Homo sapiens: one gene and its partners. The protein of the gene in region 2 purifies or fractionates together with the protein of the main gene of each other region. This does not show direct contact. Each region holds a gene or a part of one and is shown on either strand. Other genes may lie near its edges.

Region 1 (4,311 bases), on a different chromosome or scaffold from region 2:
GGAGTAGAGAGTTGTGCTCTCCTTAAAAAAAGAGATTAAGGGCTGGGCATGGTGGCATATGCCTGTAATCCCAGCACTTTGGGAGGCTGAGGCTGGAGGATTGCTTGAGGCCATCCTAAGCAACATAGCAAGACCTCTTATCTACAAAAAGATTTAAAAAAAAAACGAGCTGGGTAAGGTGGCACACACCTGTGGTCCCAGCTACTCAGGGAGCCTCAGAGGGGAAGATTGAGCCAGGGAGGCTGAGGCTGCATTGAGCCGTGATTGTGCCACTGTACTCCATCCTCAGTGAGAGGCTGTCTCAAAAAACAATTAAAAAAACACACTATTTGGCATTTTTCTGCCCAGGAGATTTTTTTCTTTTCCTTTATTAATTTATGTATATCAATATGGACTTATAGATGTGTATTTTATATGTTAGGTTATAATCCAATACTATTTTATTTGCTTTATTGCTCAAATGTTCCAGTTTTGAACATTGGGAACTCTTTTAGTTTTTTACTTGGCCCATCTCCCTTTGACATTTGCCATCATTGCAGGTATGATTTTGTTCTCTGCTCCAGTCCTGCGGTCTGCCATTTCTCCAAGAAGCCCTTGTTCTTTTTACTAAAGAGTAATGTTAAAAACTAAGATCTGATCACTAGGTGTTTTTATTTCTATGGGAGTATTTTTTTTTATTTATGGGAGTTTTATTTTTTTATGATTATTTTTATTATCATCTTTTACTTCTCTCTTGCCCTCCTCATGTATATCAGTTATCAAAATATCATTCTTTTATTCCTACTGCTGTTACCCTTATCCCATCTACAGTACTTGTTAGCTATATAGCCTTGGGAATCTAAGTCTTAGTTTTCTCATCAATGAAATTGGAATAACTCCTGCAACACAGGATTATTATGCGTATTAAAATTTAAATAAAGTAATTTACATGTTTGGCACATAAAAAGTGTCCAACACATTGTTCTATAATTATTACTATTATGTAAGGGTCATTGTATGGGTTAGAAGAAATTACTATATATGGCCAAGTACCAGGCATAGTACTTGGGCCATTCCAAGTGCCTGCTAAAATTCTAGTTTCTGTTGTTCTGCAAATATTACTGTGACCTCCTAAACTGGTCATCGTATTTCCAGTCCCTCTCTTGTTTCATTTCTACAGATACACTGCTACCAGATTACTGCTTCTTAAGTGCAAATTTAGTTATGTAATTTTTGTTCAATATTAATTCATCAACCCAGAGTCTGCTGTTATATATGGCATATATCTTTCTAAACTGTTTTAAACATAGCAGAACCAGATGGTATATACATTTTTATATCTTGCCTTTTCATTTAGCCTTATGAGGTAAATGTTTTTCCTTGCTATTAAAAACTCTGTAAACATCTTTTAAAATACTGGCAGAGTGTTTTATAGTTTGGGCATGCACCCTATCTTACTTTCTTCTGTTATTGGACTTTTAGATTGTTTTCAGAATTTTTATTATAAGAACACTAGAATGTTTTTGTGCATGCATCTTTTTCGGCATTTAGGGTTATTTTCTTTTTCTTTTTTTTTCTTTTTTTTTTTTTGAGACGGAGTCTCGCTTTGTCACCAGGCTGGAGTGCAGTGGTGCGATCTCTGCTCACTACAATCTCCACCTCCTGGGCTCAAGTGATTCTCCTGCCTCAGCCTCCCGAGTAGCTGGAATTACAGGCATGCACCCCCACTCCCAGGTAATTTTTGTATTTTTAGTAGAGATGGTGTTTTACCATGTTGTCTAGGCTGGTCTTGAACTCCTGGCCTCAAAGGATCGCCCACCTTGGCCTCCCAGAATGCTAGAATTACAGGCATGAGCCACCGTGCTCGGCCTGATTTTTTAAATTATCTGTAAGATGAGGTCTTGCTATGTTTCCCAGGCAGGTCTCCAACTCCTGGGTTCAAGTGATCCTCTCACCTTGGCCTCCTGAAGTGTTGGGATTATAGGCATGAGCAACTAGTTTTTCTTTTCCTTTTTTTTTTTTAAAGAGACAAGGTCTTGCTCTGTTGCCCAGGTTAGTGTACAGTGGCACAGTCATAGCTTGCTGTAGTCTTAACTGTTGGGGTCAAGCAATTCTCCTGCCTCCTCCTCCTGAGTAGCTGGTACTAGTACTACAGGCATGCGCCACCATGGCTGGCTAATTTTTGAATTTTTTTATAGAGCTATGTTGCCCAGGCTGTTCTCAAACTCATTTTCACAAGCAGTGCTCCCACCATGGCCTTCCAAAGTGGTGGGATTACAGGCATGAGCCACTGCACCCAGCCTAGTTTTTCTTTTTTCTTTTTCTTTTTTTTTTGAGACGGAGTCTTGCTCTGTCTCCAGTCACCCAGACTGGAGTGCAGTGACGCGATCTCTGCTCTGCCAACTGGGCTCAAGCTATTCTGCCTCAGCCTCCCAAATAGATGAGATTACAGGCACGCACCACTATGCCCAGCTATTTTTTTGTATTTTTAGTTAGAGATGGGGTTTCACCGTGTTGGCCAGGCTGGTCTCGAACTCCTGACCTCAGGTGATCTGCCTGCCTTGGCCTCCCAAAGTGCTGGGATTATAGACGTGAGCCACCATGCCTGGCCCCCAGCCTAGTTTTTCTAAGCACATATGCATATATAACATTAAGGTAAAATGACATATTTTGAATTATACTGTTAAGATTGGCTGTTATTTTCTAAAATATGAATCCTTGAAACACCTAGTAATCTTCTGAGATGTGACACAAAATAAATAACTAAAATAGAGGCCGGGAGTGGTGGCTCACGCCTGTAACCTCAACACTTTGGGAGGCTGAGGCGGGTGGATTGCTTGAGCCCAGGAATTCGAGACCAGCCTGGGCAACATGGCAAAACCTCGTCTCTACTAAAAATACAAAAAATTAACTGGGTGTGGTGACACACACACTCCTGTAGTCCCAACTACTTGGGAGGCTGAGGTGGGAGGAATTGCTTGAGCCTGGGAGGTGGAGACTGCAGTGAGTCAAGGTCCAGCTATTGCACTCCAGCCTGGGTGACAGTGACCTCATCTCAAAGATAAATAAAATAAAATGCAAATAATGTTTCTGTGCACAAATTTTGAGAAACACTGTAAACCATATTCCCATCTTGCATATGTACCTGAATAAGAACATAGTAACTCATTTAAGCCTTGCTGTTAAAAAAAACAAACGCAAAATCTTTTTTGGTGTTTAACCCAGAATTTCCCAAACTTATTTAACAATTTTTAGGGATAACCCCTGTTTAATATCTTATGGGAGTAGTATTTTACATAACAAAAGCTTTGGGAAATGTGATTAAATGATAGGACTACCTTTTTTATTTTTGTTTTTTTGAGATGGACGCTTGCTCTGTCGCCCAGGCTGGAGTGCAGTGGTGCAATCTCGGCTCAGTGCGACCTCTGCCTCTCAGGTTCAAGCGATTCTCCTGTCTCAGCCTCCCAAGTAGCTGGGACTACAGGCACGTGCCACCACGCCCAGCTAATTTTTGTATTTTTAGTAGAGACGGGGTTTCACCGTGTTGGCCAGGCTGGCCTCAAACTCCTGACCTCAGGTGATCCACCCGCCTTGGCCTCCCAGTGCTGGGATTACAGGTGTAAGCCACCATGTCCAGCCTAATTTTTAAATTTTTTATAGAGATGGAGGTCTTACCATCTTACCCAGGATGGTCTTGAACTCCTGGGCTCAAGTGATCCTCCTACGTCAGCCTCCTAGTGTGCTGGGATTACAGACGTGAGCCACCATGCCTGGCCTATTTGTTGATTTCCATTTTTATTTTAGATTTAGAAAATGTGCAGGTTTGTGGTTGGGCGCAGTGGCTCACGCCTGTAATCCCAGCACTTTGGGAGGCCGAAGCGGGCGGATCATGAGGTCAGGAGATTGAGACCATCCTGGTTAACACGGTGAAACCCCATCTCTACTAAAAATACAAAAGAAACTTAGCCGGGCATGGTGGCGGGCACCTGTAGTCCCAGCTACTCGGGAGACTGAGGCAGGAGAATGGCGTGAACCCGGGAGGCGGAGCTTGCAGTGAGCCGAGATCACGCCACTGCACTCTAGCCTGGGCGACAGAGCGAGACTCCGTCTCAAAAAAAAGAAAAAAAAAAAAAAGAAAATGTGTAGGTTTGTTACATGGGTATAATTATGTGATGCTGAGGTTTGGGGTATGAGTGATCCCATCACCCAGATAGTGAGCTTAGTACCCAATAGTTAAGTTTTTTTTTTGTTTGTTTGTTTGTTTTTTGTGATGGAGTCTTGCTTTGTTGCCCAGGCTGGAGTTCAGTGGTGTGATCTTGGCTCACTACAACC
Region 2 (4,363 bases):
ACAGTAGGTGCTTATTAGCTAGTATCAGGGAGTACTGTGCCACCATCTGCTTGTGTATGTGAAGAAAAGCTGGAAAGATGCAGTCCCTGGGCCTCTTCCCCTCAACCAGGCTTTGCTATGGCCCAGGAACCATCATGAGGCTGGAAATGGAGGCAGCACTTGCCTGTCTCTGCCCAACTTCTCCTGTTGAGGTATCTCTGTCCTTTCCTGAAGATGTGGAGGATGCATTCTACTATCCAGCCATCCCTTCCTGTGCCACCATGATCCTGAATGTGGGAAAGAGAATACAGAAGACTGTCAGCCACAATGCTGAGGGGGCACAGTGCAAACTGCCCTGGGGTTTGCTGGTGGGAGAAGGAAGAGGTCAGAGCCTTAGATAACTGGGGCGGACGGATTAAATATATTTAAGAATCGGGCCAGGTGCGGTGGCTCAGGCCTATAATCCCAGCACTTTGGGAGGCTGAGGCGGGCAGATCACCTGAGGTCAGGAGTTTGAGGCCAGCCTGACCAACATGTAGAAACCCCCATCTCTACTAAAAATACAAAATTAGCCAGGCGTGGTGGCACGCGCCTATAATCCAACCTACTCGGGAGGCTGAGGCAGGAGAATCACTAGAACCCAGGAGGTGGAGGGTGCGGTGAGAGCGCCATTGCACTCCAGCCTGGGCAACAAGTATAAAACACCATCTCAAAAAAAAAAAAAAAATTTGGTTCTTTATAGAATATGCTGTATTAGTCAGGGTACTGGCAGGAAACATTCAAGTGGGTAACTGCGAGTCTACCTAGTGAGGCATTCTGGGCCAGCAACAGTGAGGTGTGATGACCAGCTGTAGGTCTGAAGGGACAAATGAAGAGTTGCTGGAACCCGGCTCTCTCTGAGCGCTTTCCAATAGAAGTGGTGGGTTTTGGTTACAGCCACCCACAGCCCAACCAGAAGGGAGCCGGGGAACCACTCCCTCTCCTCTTGCCCTCTGTGTTCTACTGCTGCTTCCCACTGGCTGAACCTACCTAGCTGCTGGGAGCCAGGGAACCCTGACCTAGTCCAGAGGTGAGTCTTTTGGGCATGCACAGAGCAGGGTGGAGATGGACAGATGATGAGGGCAGAGTGGGTCTGGAGGGGCCCAGGGAAGCTCTCCAGGAAGGCTATGAAAGCTGGTCCCAGCAGCCCAAGCTCATGATCTCCTAAGTCATTCACAGAAGTGCATGTCACACCATGATTCTTCTCTTGGTTTTATTGTTTGGTAGAAAAACAGGCTCTTTAACACTGAATAAACATCTCACGAACTGTCGCTCCTAGATTACAAAAAGTCAAAACCAATTTCCTTTGACGCCGGGCCCTTGAATCTGACATTCAAGTCACCGTAATAGAAACCAGAGCTGCTGAACCTTACATTCTGGAAGGTGCTTGAACAAAGGCATGTTAAGGACCGTTTAAAACTTCTAGCATGTAAGAAGATCCATCTTTCCTTCCAACGCCTTTGGATAATAACAGCAGAATCCCGGAGATCTGCTGCTGAGTTTGAGAAGGCCAAGTTTAAGGATTCCAAACTCCAGCCTTCAATATTTCTGCAGAAACTTAGAGAAGTAACCTCCCCGTCCTCTCCGCTGGCTTCCCCAAGTACAGATGCAGGATGCAGGTCTTTCTTCCTGCTACCCAGGCACCGAGGACTCAAACCATCTCACCGTCTCATCACTGGGCTTCTTCAATGGGCTCTTGGAGGAAGAAGCTTTTCGTTTTTGCCAATCTTCAGTCCTTAGAAAAGTCCTTTTTGTTAAGAAAAGGCAGGGAGGGTTAACTAAGTTCTAAGAATTCAATAAGAAAAGGAAAGAGGTACCTTTTATGAAAAGGACTTCCAAGCTCTCTCAGCCAGCAATTTAACTCAAATAACTTTCCTGAGCATCTCCACACGGAACATTCAGCACTTCTCTCCTAGCAGCCAGAGGATGGGATCTGTGTACACTGAGTGTCACTTAAAACACCCTCATTAGATGCAGTAAAAAGTTACGCTTTACTCCCGTAAGTCAAATCCACATGGCTCTGGGCTGTGCCCTGCAGAATTAGCTGTAGGAGTAACAGTAAAGGTCCTGCCCGACAGCCATGAGCAGCCCCGGCGCGCCCCGGGAGCCCCCCAGCCGCGACGAGAAGGCCACACTGGGAATGTCGGCCTTGGAGGCAGGGTACGGGGAGGGTATGGTTCTCAGTAGGCGGGCATCGTGGAGGCTCCAGATTCTCGTGTAGCAGTCCTGGCCCACTAGGAAAGAGGAGAGACACATGGCAGGCTAGTGAGAGAATGCAAAGGAAAACTTACCTACATGTGGACATGGCTTCCCAAGATTCCTCAGGGCTGTGATTTCATGTGAGCCAAAACACAAACTCATTAACGGACAGTATTTCTACGGATAACCCAAGTCGCCCTGTTGTGCTAGAACAATGACAAGATGCCCTGGTTGGCTGTGTGATGCCATGAATGGCTCGGAGACATCCTGGCTAATGTCTGGGTATTCTGCTGCTCTTGATGTCACGGAACGTTCAAGTGCGAGTGTGGCCCACCTGGTCTAGGTGACATGCAACTGATTTCCCCCATTTTTTAGGGACAGGGTCTTGCTCTGTCGCCCGGGCTGGAGTGCAGTGGTGTGATCAGGGCTCACTGCAGCCTTGAACTCCTGGGCCCAAGCCATCCTTCTGCCTCAGCCTCCTGAGTTAACTGGGACTACAAGTGTGTGCCGCCATGCCTAATTTTTTTTTTTTTTGAGATAGGGTCTTGCTGTGTTGCCCCAGCTGGTCTTAAACTCCTGGCCTCAAGCTCCCTAAGTGCTGGAATTATAGCTACCACACCTGGCCTGATCTTTTCATGTTATAGTAAAAGATCTGTCAAAGTCATTACATCCTGGGGATGGGCTAGGTTGACAACTCTCCCCACAGCTCTTTCTGGTTTAATGCTTCAGTTCCTAGGACCGGTTTAAGTCTTCAGGGCTCCAGTTCTGAGGACTGTGACACACAACAGCATGGGTTACAGCAGCCCAGAAACATGATATACACTACTGGAGACCTTCAGCAGGAGAAGAGGACAGGCCTTGGGCAGTCATGGATTTCACATTTGTGATTCTGATCACTTGTGTGGCTCTAAGACCAGAAGTGCTATCTTGGCTGAAGCTGAATCCCGGCTGCAGTTTATTACTGCAGCTGGTAACTACCTGCATCTGCCTCTCAGCAAGGCTGAGCTCTCTCTATCATCCAGCTCACAAGAGCTCTTCTGTGATAAAAACAGGTGAAAAATCGACTTAAAAAGGAGGCGAAGTCCTGGTGTTGATGAGAATAGTAAATAAGTCTATGAATGTCCTAACAAAGTAATGCTTCCTAGCCACAAAAATGTTCCATGGGGTATAAGCCCTTTCTATAGGAATACCAGTAGAGGTGACAATTCTTGAAGACTGAGAACACATTCTGCAGTGTCAGCAGCTACTATTTCAGTGTGAAAGCATTGAGCCTGCACACTGTCTGATTACGCTATAGCCACCATCATCTGTAATCAACTGGTAACTCCCTTCCAGGGGGCTTAGTGGCCAGATAGCTGCTCCTAATCTGCAGATCATGGAGCCACAGGGATGGTAGTAAAGGGGCCACAAATCTTTTTTATTTATTTATTTATTTTGAGACGGAGTCTCGCTCTGTTGCCAGGCTGGAGTGCAGTGGCGTGATATCGGCTCACTGCAACCTCCGACTTCCTGGTCCAAGCAATTCTCCTGCTTCTGACTTCCGAGTAGCTGAGAGATTACAGGCAGGTGCCACCATGCCCAGTTAATTTTTGTATTTTAGTAGAGATGGGGTTTCACCATGTTGGCCAGGATGGTCTCAATCTCCTGACCTCGTGATCCACCCTCCTTGGCCTCCCAAAGTGTTGGGATTACGGGCGTGAGCCACCGCGCCGGGCCGGGGCCAAGAATCTTTACAATGACCATAACTTCTTTTCTCAGCATCCTCTGGTGGAAATGTGAGTAGAGACAACAGGGAGCCCAAGTTTTTGGATAAGATAGTTGCGTGGTGGAATAATGCTGGCCTGATGAAATCCACTCAAACTCCAAACCCAGGCTCCCCAGGACCTCCCCACCTGCCTGTTTCTGAAGTGACGTTTGCCCACTGACATGGGATGAGGCTGTCCACCTGGTGGACATTTATTTACACTCCTGATTACTAATATAATCTAATTCTACTTCCCTCCTAGTCTCCCCACCCAGCTGTCCACACTCCCCTTGATTCAGTTCTGTTTTGGGGTAACTTTTCCCTCTGCTGCTGAAGTTGCTGGGATCGCCCCTGAGAGACAGTATTTGATGGGGTGGAACTTCCCCTTCCTTCCTCAAGTAC
Region 3 (4,910 bases), on a different chromosome or scaffold from region 2:
TTGAGTAAATACCAAATTATCATACAAGAGAACTTTACTAAGTCTCCTTTTAAGCAGCAAGATAGTTGTGGTACATGGGATGGAGAGCAGTGATCAAACAGGTATTGATCTATATCTGTTTCTGCCCAATAGCTTCTTTCTAAATTGTTTTCAGTAGAAAAAAATAGTATATGGAGACCTTAGTGTAAAGGTTTACACACGATTGTATATAATTACATACATTTCTTATTTTGAAGTAAGCATTTTAGACTTTCCAACAGGAGTGCAAATTAATGTGAGCATTGATTCATTTAACACTTAAAATATGGTTTCATTTAAAAAATTAAAAATACTTCAACACTTCAAAAACTAAGTCTCCACTTAGTTTGGAAAATTAGGCTTAATGTCACCATTGGTAAAAATTAGATATGTATTTAGCCTCTACTATGTAAAATAGGTTACTTATCTGATGTGATTTTTGATGATGGGTAGATATTATACTTCACATTCTTTGTATGGCAGCTGCTGACACTTGCACTGTCCATAACCATTAATGATGATGAAGGGTCCTTCATGGGTGGGTTCATATTCATTATACGGTCCTTGGTCTGACATGTTTGACATATGGAGTCGTGTTTGGGATCGGAGCTGCCTGTGGTTCTGAACCATTGAGCACTGCCTAATTCTTCTTAAAGTGGGAGGGCAGCACTTCCTGGAGATGAACACTATAAAAATAATAAAAAAGAAAGAAAACAATAAAGCCATTGTTCCCGTAATTACCCGCTGAGTGAAGATGGCATTGTCTGGTTCAGGAAAGTGTTCCTCGGTAGTAACTGCTATGCCTGCAGTAGTTGGGATTTCTTTGTCTCCCACATGGTAACTTGATGAGCTTATTCTTTTTGTATATTCAGTGGTTGGATCTCTATAAGTTGTAGCCATGACAGTGACAGTGGTTGACAAATTCCAGCAGAGCTGAAATCCATGGACTGCATCTAGAATATCCTCTCCTTGGGTGTGGTCAGGACTGTGGCATAGGATGGAGTGTTCCCACCGACCTTGGAAACTGCCCAGCCAGGAGGCCAGAGCACATATTCGGGCGCTGCATTCCCACAGATTGCCAGAGAGACCAACGGTTGTGAGGGATCTCAGGGAGTTTAAGATCTTGGAATCAAGGCTGTTTAACTTGTTGTTATCCATGAGGAGTATTTTAAGATTGGGCATCGTTTCAAACACTGTCAAGTCGATGGCTTTGATTTCATTTCCAGTCAGGTCTAGCTTTTCTAAAGTGCCCCAGGTCCACTCCATCCCACATGTCAAGTTGCTGATTTTGTTCCATTGTAAGAAGAGCGTGTGCAGACTGCTTAGCCGTAGGAAATGAGCAAAATTAATCTTCGTCAGCTGGTTGTGCTCTAGGTGAAGCTCTCTCAGTTTAATTAATCCTGCAAATCCATTGCGAGCCAAACTTCGCAAACGATTTGTGCTCAAATCCAGAAACTCCAGACTACGACAGTCCCAGAACAGGCGTACTGGGATAGTCCGCAGGGAGTTGGAACGTAAATGCAAGGTCTGCAGCTTCCGAAGGCCATAGAAGAGCTCTGGGTGCAGAGATGACAGCTGATTAAAAGACAGGTCCAAATTTTGCAGGTTAATCAGTTGGGTAAAAGTTGTGTTTGGCAAGTAAAATATTTTGTTGGAACTTAAGATTAATTCCTTAAGTTTATATAGTCCTTGAAAAGCATCTTCTTTTACTGTTGAAATTTGATTGTGATCTAAGTGGAGCCAAGTAAGTTGACTGAAGCTGGCAAATTGATCTCTTTCGAGCTCTGTGATGTGATTGTGCCTCAGGGACAGGCCCAGAGAGCCCTTGTCTGTGGCGTTTGGCACTGAGTGGAAGCCCTGAGAGTCGCAGTAGAAGAGCAGCTTCTCGCAGCGGCATTTGGGTGGACACGCCATACCCAGGGCAGGCAGCATTTTTAAAACCATACTCATTGCATATATTGCTGCCAGCATAGGGGCCCCTAATGGCCACTTGAAATGTAAGCCTGCAGAATATAATTTAAGGAAAACAAGAAGATAGGATATTTTTCAGCAGAACATATGGGCTATTTAAAAAAAACAACCACCACCAACATTATAGCAAAAGATTTCACTGCATATAACTTATTTTTCATTTACTGCAGAAAAATTAACCTTATTGGTATGACTGGACCAAAACTTAAGCCATTTAAAAAGAAGATAAAACATGTCTCTGTCATCATCGATATATGCTTTTACCTAAACCTCAAAATCCAAAATATGATGGTGATTTCCCTCATAAAATGTGAATTCGGTAGCTTATTTTAAAAGCGTGATTCCTTGTTGAATGTACAAGACATATAAATGCACAGACTTACCCATTCTTCTGAGCACATTGGAGGCTGCATTCAGTCGCGGTTGTTAGACTCAACGCAGTGAGTCTGTAAAAGGCTCTAACATGTAGGAGCCTTTGACCAGTTTCCTGTTTTCTGTGTCCCAGGCTTTCCAAGTAAAATTGAATCCACCAGGACGAGTTGTTTTTTCCTTAGGATATCCCTCTGGAAAGCATTGGTTTCATTTTCTGTGATTGCTCTGATCCCTAAATCAGTTTTGAATATAAGTTATTAAATTTCTCCACCTCTAACTGCTCAGCTGGTTAATCAAAGCTTCAGTCTCCTTTCCGCAGCCGTTAGTTCTCTTGGTCTTAACTTGTTGATGGCAGATGGGTGGCTTGTTGCAGAGAAGAGCTCCTGGAGCAGCATGAGTGCATTTACTGAAAAGCTTTTCCGAGAAACGGCACAAGAATGGATTTGCTTATGTGCTGCGACCACACAGAACTGTATATAGGCTGACGTCACCGGATGACGTGTCTTTTGTTTGGGTTTTCCAGAAGCTTTACTGTTATAAAGCACCATGCTTTGTAACAGCATCGGGGTCGTTGCAGGACCCCCTGATTACAATAAAGCGAGAAAGAAGAACTCCTGACTTAAAAACATGATATTCCTTCAGTGTAGGAAGCAGCAGTGAGGTTGTAATAAAGGCTGCATTCAAGAAGACCCATCTGAACAGTGAGTTGGGTTAGCAGAGTGATGATTTTTAATGCTTGTGAGAGCCAGTGTTAGACTGCCGATTCTGCATAGAGAGATCATCTAAATGGGCAGAAGCCTGCACAATTTATGAAGTGCTGATTTAACACCAGCCTATGCAAGGTAGTGTCGCTGCACTGGTAGTTTGGAAAGCTATTCAGTTGCCTTGTTGTCATGCTTGGTTAAAATCAAAGTATGACTATGATTTGCTTTAGATGTGTTGATAAACTAGCTAAGTGGGCTTGGCTTGTTTGTCATCAAGAGCTTAACATTATAAACGAAGAATAAAGGGGGAGGGGAAGCTTGCAAAACAAAGCATGTGGTTATTTTTTTCTTTGAGAATTTCAGGGGAACTCTAAAAAGATTTCTCTTTCTCCTATTTTATAACAATGTTTTGTCGCCATACTGATTGAAAAAATAATGCTGAGTTGATCTTTAAATGTCCTCCTGGGAGGACAAGGCAGGTTGATACAGTCATTTTAATGCACATGCCCTAACAGCAAAGCAGAGATGATTTAGGACAAGTGATACCGTGTAGCTGGATTCTGACATGGCCCCTTGTATTTTACCTCAGAATCTCACCTACTCCATAACTAAAAGCCTCCGCTGGTACTGAGGTTGGTGGTTGTGACACTGAAATAATAGAGCATTTGCACCCTAGTTCCCAGCCACCAAGTGGCTGACTTAACTGAGCCTACTGCTGTTGTTAGAACCTGTCTTGTGAATACAAAAGGTCACTCATGCTTTGGACTGGGATTTTTGTTTTGACTTGATTTTGCTTGCCCTAACTCCAGTTTCTCCCTGTTGAATGGTGTCTTCACTTTTCAGACCTCAGTTGTGGATGTATAGCTCCATGTTTAGTGTTATATAAATGCAAAAGATGTTTCTAGATGTTATATTTTCAGGCCTGACAAAGGTAAGCCCTTTTCTACATCTTGCCTTATTGATTTGACCCAACATACCTATTTCTCCCATATCATTGGCACTTACCCTTTGTGGGTCTTGTCTCAGACCTAAGGACAGACATCTTTAAAACTACTGATGGTGTCTGTGAAACAAGAACATCGTTGGCCTTTTTGGTTCTGAGGGATTCATCCCACTGGGCAGATCTAAGAAGTAATTGTCTTGGGTAAAATTTTTCTGTTGTAGTGTTGTGCTGGAGTGAGAGCTGTGAGACTCCAAGGTCCCTTCCTTAGGGCTCTGTGTAAAGGTGCTATGAAAACTGCAGCAGTGCAGGTGTGTGGTTTGAGTCCTCCTAGAAGTGATCCCAAGGTAGAATTAGAAGTACAAGAGGCAAAAATGCCTACGAAGTACAAAGGGAGACAGAAGGCAGCAGGAATGCTCTGAGAGTCTTCGTACCACAGGGCAGGTCTGACACCTGTGAAGGGACAGAGGAAGCAAAGAAGATGAGATTGGCATTGTGGTTCTTAGACACATTTTGTAGGCTGAATGGAAATTCCCAAGCCAAAGTTGCCAGTGAACAGACTCTTGAGTCCTTAGTAATGAGCCTGCACTAGTACGTCCTCTTTGTTCCTTCTTGCTGGTTAAAGAAGGGAAGGAAACAAGTCCTGGTTTAGACCCGGGGAATGCTACTCCCCCTCTGACCTTAATCCTTCCTATAGTCTCTCTCAATAGGCTAGAACTTCTTAACCTGGTTCCATAAACTGTCTTGTGAAATTTTTTTGCTTGTTCATTTTTCTGTGGATAAGGTTGAGTCCGATTCCTACAGGGTCTCTCACCCTAGGTTTCAGAGCTGCTGTTCTACAGGAACTTGCCCCCAAAAGTTCTAAGGACAGTAGTCTCATAGGAGTGGTCTCTTAAATTTCTTTT
Region 4 (4,311 bases), on a different chromosome or scaffold from region 2:
TCCTCAACTCGGCCGTCACATTGCAAAAGCAGCCACAGAAGACAAAGAAGCAAATGGGTGTGGCTGTGTTCTGATAACATTTATTCACAAAAACAGGGCTCAGCCAACTGTAGACTGCCCACCCTCGCCCTCAAACTATGAATTACAACCAGGATTTAATCCCAATAGTTAAGGAAAAACCAAATAAATCTGAATTTTAATATAGTAATGGAATTGGCCACAAAGTGTTTAAAAACTGGTTTCTAAAACTAGTGATCAAACTGCAAAACCAAAACACTCTCAACTACTTACTACATAAAATGTTTCTAGTTTATATAAAATGAATAAATAGTGCTTAATATAGCAGGATTCCATTTAGAAAGGGTAGTTGAACCCCTTAGAATTGGGGTTAACATCATGGATTCTGATGTCAGACAGACCTGGGTTCAAATTATGACCCTAGCCATGAGGCTGGGGCCTCAAGTTTCCCTGAGATTACTCCTACCCACCTACTTGGTCACTACCCCAGGCACATAGATCAAAGTAAGTTCTGGCTACATGGCAAAATGGAGAGTCTCATTGGTAGCAATTTTTTGGGTCACTGGCTGAATATTTTCATCTAGTGACTACAAAATTTTAGGGTTTTTAAAAGCGATGTGGTCTTCCCTTAGACTTCCATAGGTGCCTCTGATAGAAGTTCTGGACATACAGCATTTCTGTGTCAGATAAAGGTAGGGAGGAAGTATAAGAAGAATGTGCAATATGCAAGAGAAATCAGAAATCGCTATTTTGTATAATTCTATTTAGATGAAAACACTGTTGCAAACCATATTCCTGTAAACGCGTAACAGGGGGACTAGACGGATGCACAAAACCATGAACAGAGGTAACCTCTGGGGAGGGAGCTCAGGCAAAGGAAAAATGATGAGGGTCTTGTATGTTTTCATAAAGTCTACAGTGTTTCATTCTCAACAGGATCACACCTGAGGATCACAGCATCATCCTGGGCCTCTACTCACCAGATGCCAGTAGCACCCGATTCCTGCCGGTTAGGACAATCAAAAATGTCTCCAGACATTGTCCAATGTCCTCTGGGGGGAGGGGAGCAAATCACCTCCATTTACAAACCACTGCTCTAGGGCCTAGAGATTATTAGAGATTACAAAGACTTCTGGTCTCTAAGACTTTTTTTTTTTTTTTTTTTTTTTTTGAGACAAAGTCTCACTCTATCACCCAGGCTAGAGTGCAATGATGAAATCACACAGCTTACTGTAGCCTCGACCTCTCAGGCTCATGTGATCCACCTGCCTCAGCCTCCTGAGTAGCTGGGACCACAGGCGTGCACCACCATGACAATTTTTAAATTTTTTGTAGAAATGGGGTCTTGCTATGTCGCCCGGGCTGGTCTTGAATTCCTGGCCTCAAGTGATCCTCCCACCTTGGTCTCCCAAAGTGCTGGGATTTCAGGAGTAAGCTACTGTGCCTGGCCAGAAATAAACTTTTTGAACCTAGTCAAATATTAGAGATTTGACCTAAGAAGGTAAGTTTTCTTTTTATAGGATGGTTTTGGTATTTGAAATGAAATTTTCCAAAGAAAATTTAGGAAATAATTGCAACTTGATGGCTTTCCTTGGCCTAAATTCCCTACTGTGATTTTTCAATTGAGGCCTGTGGCATAATGAAAGTACCAGACTGGGTGTCAGGACACATGGACGGGAGCCAGAGATCCACTCAATCACGCACTGCATCAGCACAGACAAGCTTCAACCTCACATTCCTCACCAGCAACAAGAAGCTTGGTTGGCCTCCTGCATCATCTTGCAGCTCAAAATCTATGATTCTACTGAGGGGCTCCAACCTACAGCCTTGCTCCATTTATCTCCTCTCACCAGGGTACTACACAGCAGTGAGCAATCTGCTCGGCTCCTGTGAATAGACTTTTTTCCTTATAAAGGATATCAATTCCTGTCTCTTTAGGCCACAGGATAGTGAATTGTTAGGATCATCTAATATCCAAACCTGGTTAAACAGTGACATTACTAAATCATAAAAGTAGCTACAAATTATCCAAGTAGTTAAATAAAAACCCACCTCTTCCATATACTGATATATGATGGCTTTGACAGCTGGCATATTGGTGGCATCCATCATCAGGGTCACTGCTTGCCCTTTCCGAATCTTCACTGCCCCTTTGAACACCTGCTGGTTATTATAACAGGCAGCCAAAGTGGCAATGGCCATCACCTAGAGACAACAAGAAGAGAGGGAAAAAAGAAGAAATGATGTCGTTAGCTATCATTATCACAAAAAGGTAAGAAAACCTTCTGTTGAATGGGCAATTGCTAACTGCTAATCAACTAAGATGGAATCGCTCAAGAAAAAATACCCACGAAGAAAGTATGTCAAGATTTTTACCTTCCCCACTCCTCCCTTTCTCAACAACACACAGAATTAAGCAGTCTAAAACAATTCTATAATGTAGCCACAAAAGTTCCATTTTATTTGGAAAAAGCAAACACAAGTAAATCCAACATTTTCCATGCTAGAGCAATGGATTATCGGATCGGAAATATGTATTTCAAAATAATATATGGGAAGAATTTTCTATTGTAGTTGTTTTTCTATTTTTCCTACAACAAACATAATCATTATATATTTAAAACCAATGCCAGGGGGAGAACAACCAGAAGGGGATTAATTTCCTGTGCTCAAAGGTAAAGTATTTCTAGGTAAATGGAAACATAAGACGGCGATACAGATTTTACTTTCAACCACCATTCGAAGTTGGTCATTAGAACAAGATCAAACCAAGTTCCCAAATCAGTTAAATGCTGTTACTTTCTTCACTTATTTGCAGTAGTATCTGCAATACTTGGTAAAGGCAACTAAAAAGTGTAAGTTCCTAGCATACTGAGAGGCTAGGTCTACCGGACCAGGTTCTTTTTATGCCGGGTCTAGGAAAAGGACAGCAGTAATTAGGTGCTTAATGAAGACTTTTTAATGATAACAGCTTCACCCAGGTTTTACCCAGCACTCCCCATAAATCTAAGCCAAAGACCTTGACTTAACTGTGAGGAAAAGAACCTAACTAGTTTAGGATAGCTGTAGAAAATAGTAAATCCAGAAAGAAGGTTCTGAAAAGGAGCAGGCTTAACCTCAAGGCTGAGCTGAGTTTGGTGGCTGGAAGCAAAGGCGGGTGCTATGAAACTCCCAGCGTAATAAACTGGAGTCATCGTCTTTTTAAGGAATCATATCCTTGAATATAGCACAGCAAAATCCACCCTTACTCCTACCCCACTCCCTTTAGCCCCGTATCCACCCAGAGGAGCCCCCTTCCCTACCTGTGGAATAGCACAGAAGTTAAACACACTCTGGTTTCTGAGTCTCGAAAGGTAGGTGATGACATCTGGGATGTGGTGCAGTGCATTGGTTATAAGTTCATTCAGGCACTGCACGGCCAAGTCAATATTCTCCGGCTTAGCAAAATCCCCTAACTTCTTAACATACCTGCTCCAAACCTAGACAGATAAGAAGATTAAGGAACAGGTCAGCGTGTGCATAGGGGAGAATTTACAAACAATATTAAAGGGTCTTTGTGCATAAGAACTATGATACAGGCTGGGCGCCGTGGCTCACGCCTGTAATCCCAGCACTTTGGGAGGCCGAGGAGGGTGGATCACGAGGTCAGGAGTTCAAGACCAGCCTGGCCAAGGTGGTGAAACCCTGTGTCTACTAAAAATACAAAAACTAGCCGGGTACGGTGGCAGGCGCCTGTAATCCCAGCTACTCAGGAGGGTGAGACAGAAGAATTGCTTGAACCTAGGGGGCGGAGGTTGCAGTGAGTCAAGATCTCGCCATTGCACTCCAGCCTGGGTGAAAGAGTGAGACTCCGTCACAAAAACAAAAACAAAACAAAACAAAAAAAAACACTATGATATACAGTAAAGTCTCTTAGCTGCAGACTCATCTTTCACGAAGATCAAGTTCATTTTAAGCTCCATGCAATAGCTATTTCTGACTACCAGTAAGTGTCCAGTTGCAACCTGGAAGTGAGTTACGTATTGGGGAGCATGTCCCGAGGGACAACTAGTGCAACACTGCACTACTTGGACGAATTCAGGCTAAAGAGGCTCCTGTTAGAGCTACTGGCCTACTTCTGAAAAAAATAACCCAATATACAAAAACAGTTATAATTGTACTGCAGACTAAACAGTAAACCTTCTCAAGATGGCCAGGCCTCTAAATAATGACTAACATTATATTCCTACTCTGGTAAGAAAGCTGCTGAAAGGCATAGCTGGGAAATGAGCTGAGTCTATCCTCTAAGTGTAT

The links. Proteins that work in one complex are often made in the same cells at the same time.
Region 1: the proteins of DCAF4 (region 2) and PYM1 purify together in Homo sapiens (co-immunoprecipitation; one large-scale study listed by IntAct). This does not show direct contact.
Region 3: the proteins of DCAF4 (region 2) and LRRTM2 purify together in Homo sapiens (affinity purification with mass spectrometry; one large-scale study listed by BioGRID and IntAct). This does not show direct contact.
Region 4: the proteins of DCAF4 (region 2) and FDFT1 purify together in Homo sapiens (affinity purification with mass spectrometry; one large-scale study listed by BioGRID and IntAct). This does not show direct contact.

What each region holds. Positions count from the first base shown.
Region 1 is NC_000012.12:55,917,895-55,922,205, reverse strand, and holds part of PYM1 (partner of Y14 and mago), read left to right. Parts: intron 1-4,311. UniProt on the Homo sapiens protein: Key regulator of the exon junction complex (EJC), a multiprotein complex that associates immediately upstream of the exon-exon junction on mRNAs and serves as a positional landmark for the intron exon structure of genes and directs post-transcriptional processes in the cytoplasm such as mRNA export, nonsense-mediated mRNA decay (NMD) or translation.
Region 2 is NC_000014.9:72,956,501-72,960,863, reverse strand, and holds the end of DCAF4 (DDB1- and CUL4-associated factor 4), read right to left. Parts: intron 2,253-4,363; coding exon 2,059-2,252; 3' UTR 1,161-2,058; downstream 1-1,160. UniProt on the Homo sapiens protein: May function as a substrate receptor for CUL4-DDB1 E3 ubiquitin-protein ligase complex.
Region 3 is NC_000005.10:138,872,536-138,877,445, forward strand, and holds the start of LRRTM2 (leucine-rich repeat transmembrane neuronal protein 2 precursor), read right to left. Parts: upstream 2,801-4,910; 5' UTR 2,377-2,800; coding exon 2,373-2,376; intron 2,022-2,372; coding exon 475-2,021; 3' UTR 1-474. UniProt on the Homo sapiens protein: Involved in the development and maintenance of excitatory synapses in the vertebrate nervous system. Regulates surface expression of AMPA receptors and instructs the development of functional glutamate release sites.
Region 4 is NC_000008.11:11,829,430-11,833,740, reverse strand, and holds part of FDFT1 (squalene synthase), read right to left. Parts: intron 3,498-4,311; coding exon 3,321-3,497; intron 2,224-3,320; coding exon 2,071-2,223; intron 1-2,070. UniProt on the Homo sapiens protein: Catalyzes the condensation of 2 farnesyl pyrophosphate (FPP) moieties to form squalene. Proceeds in two distinct steps.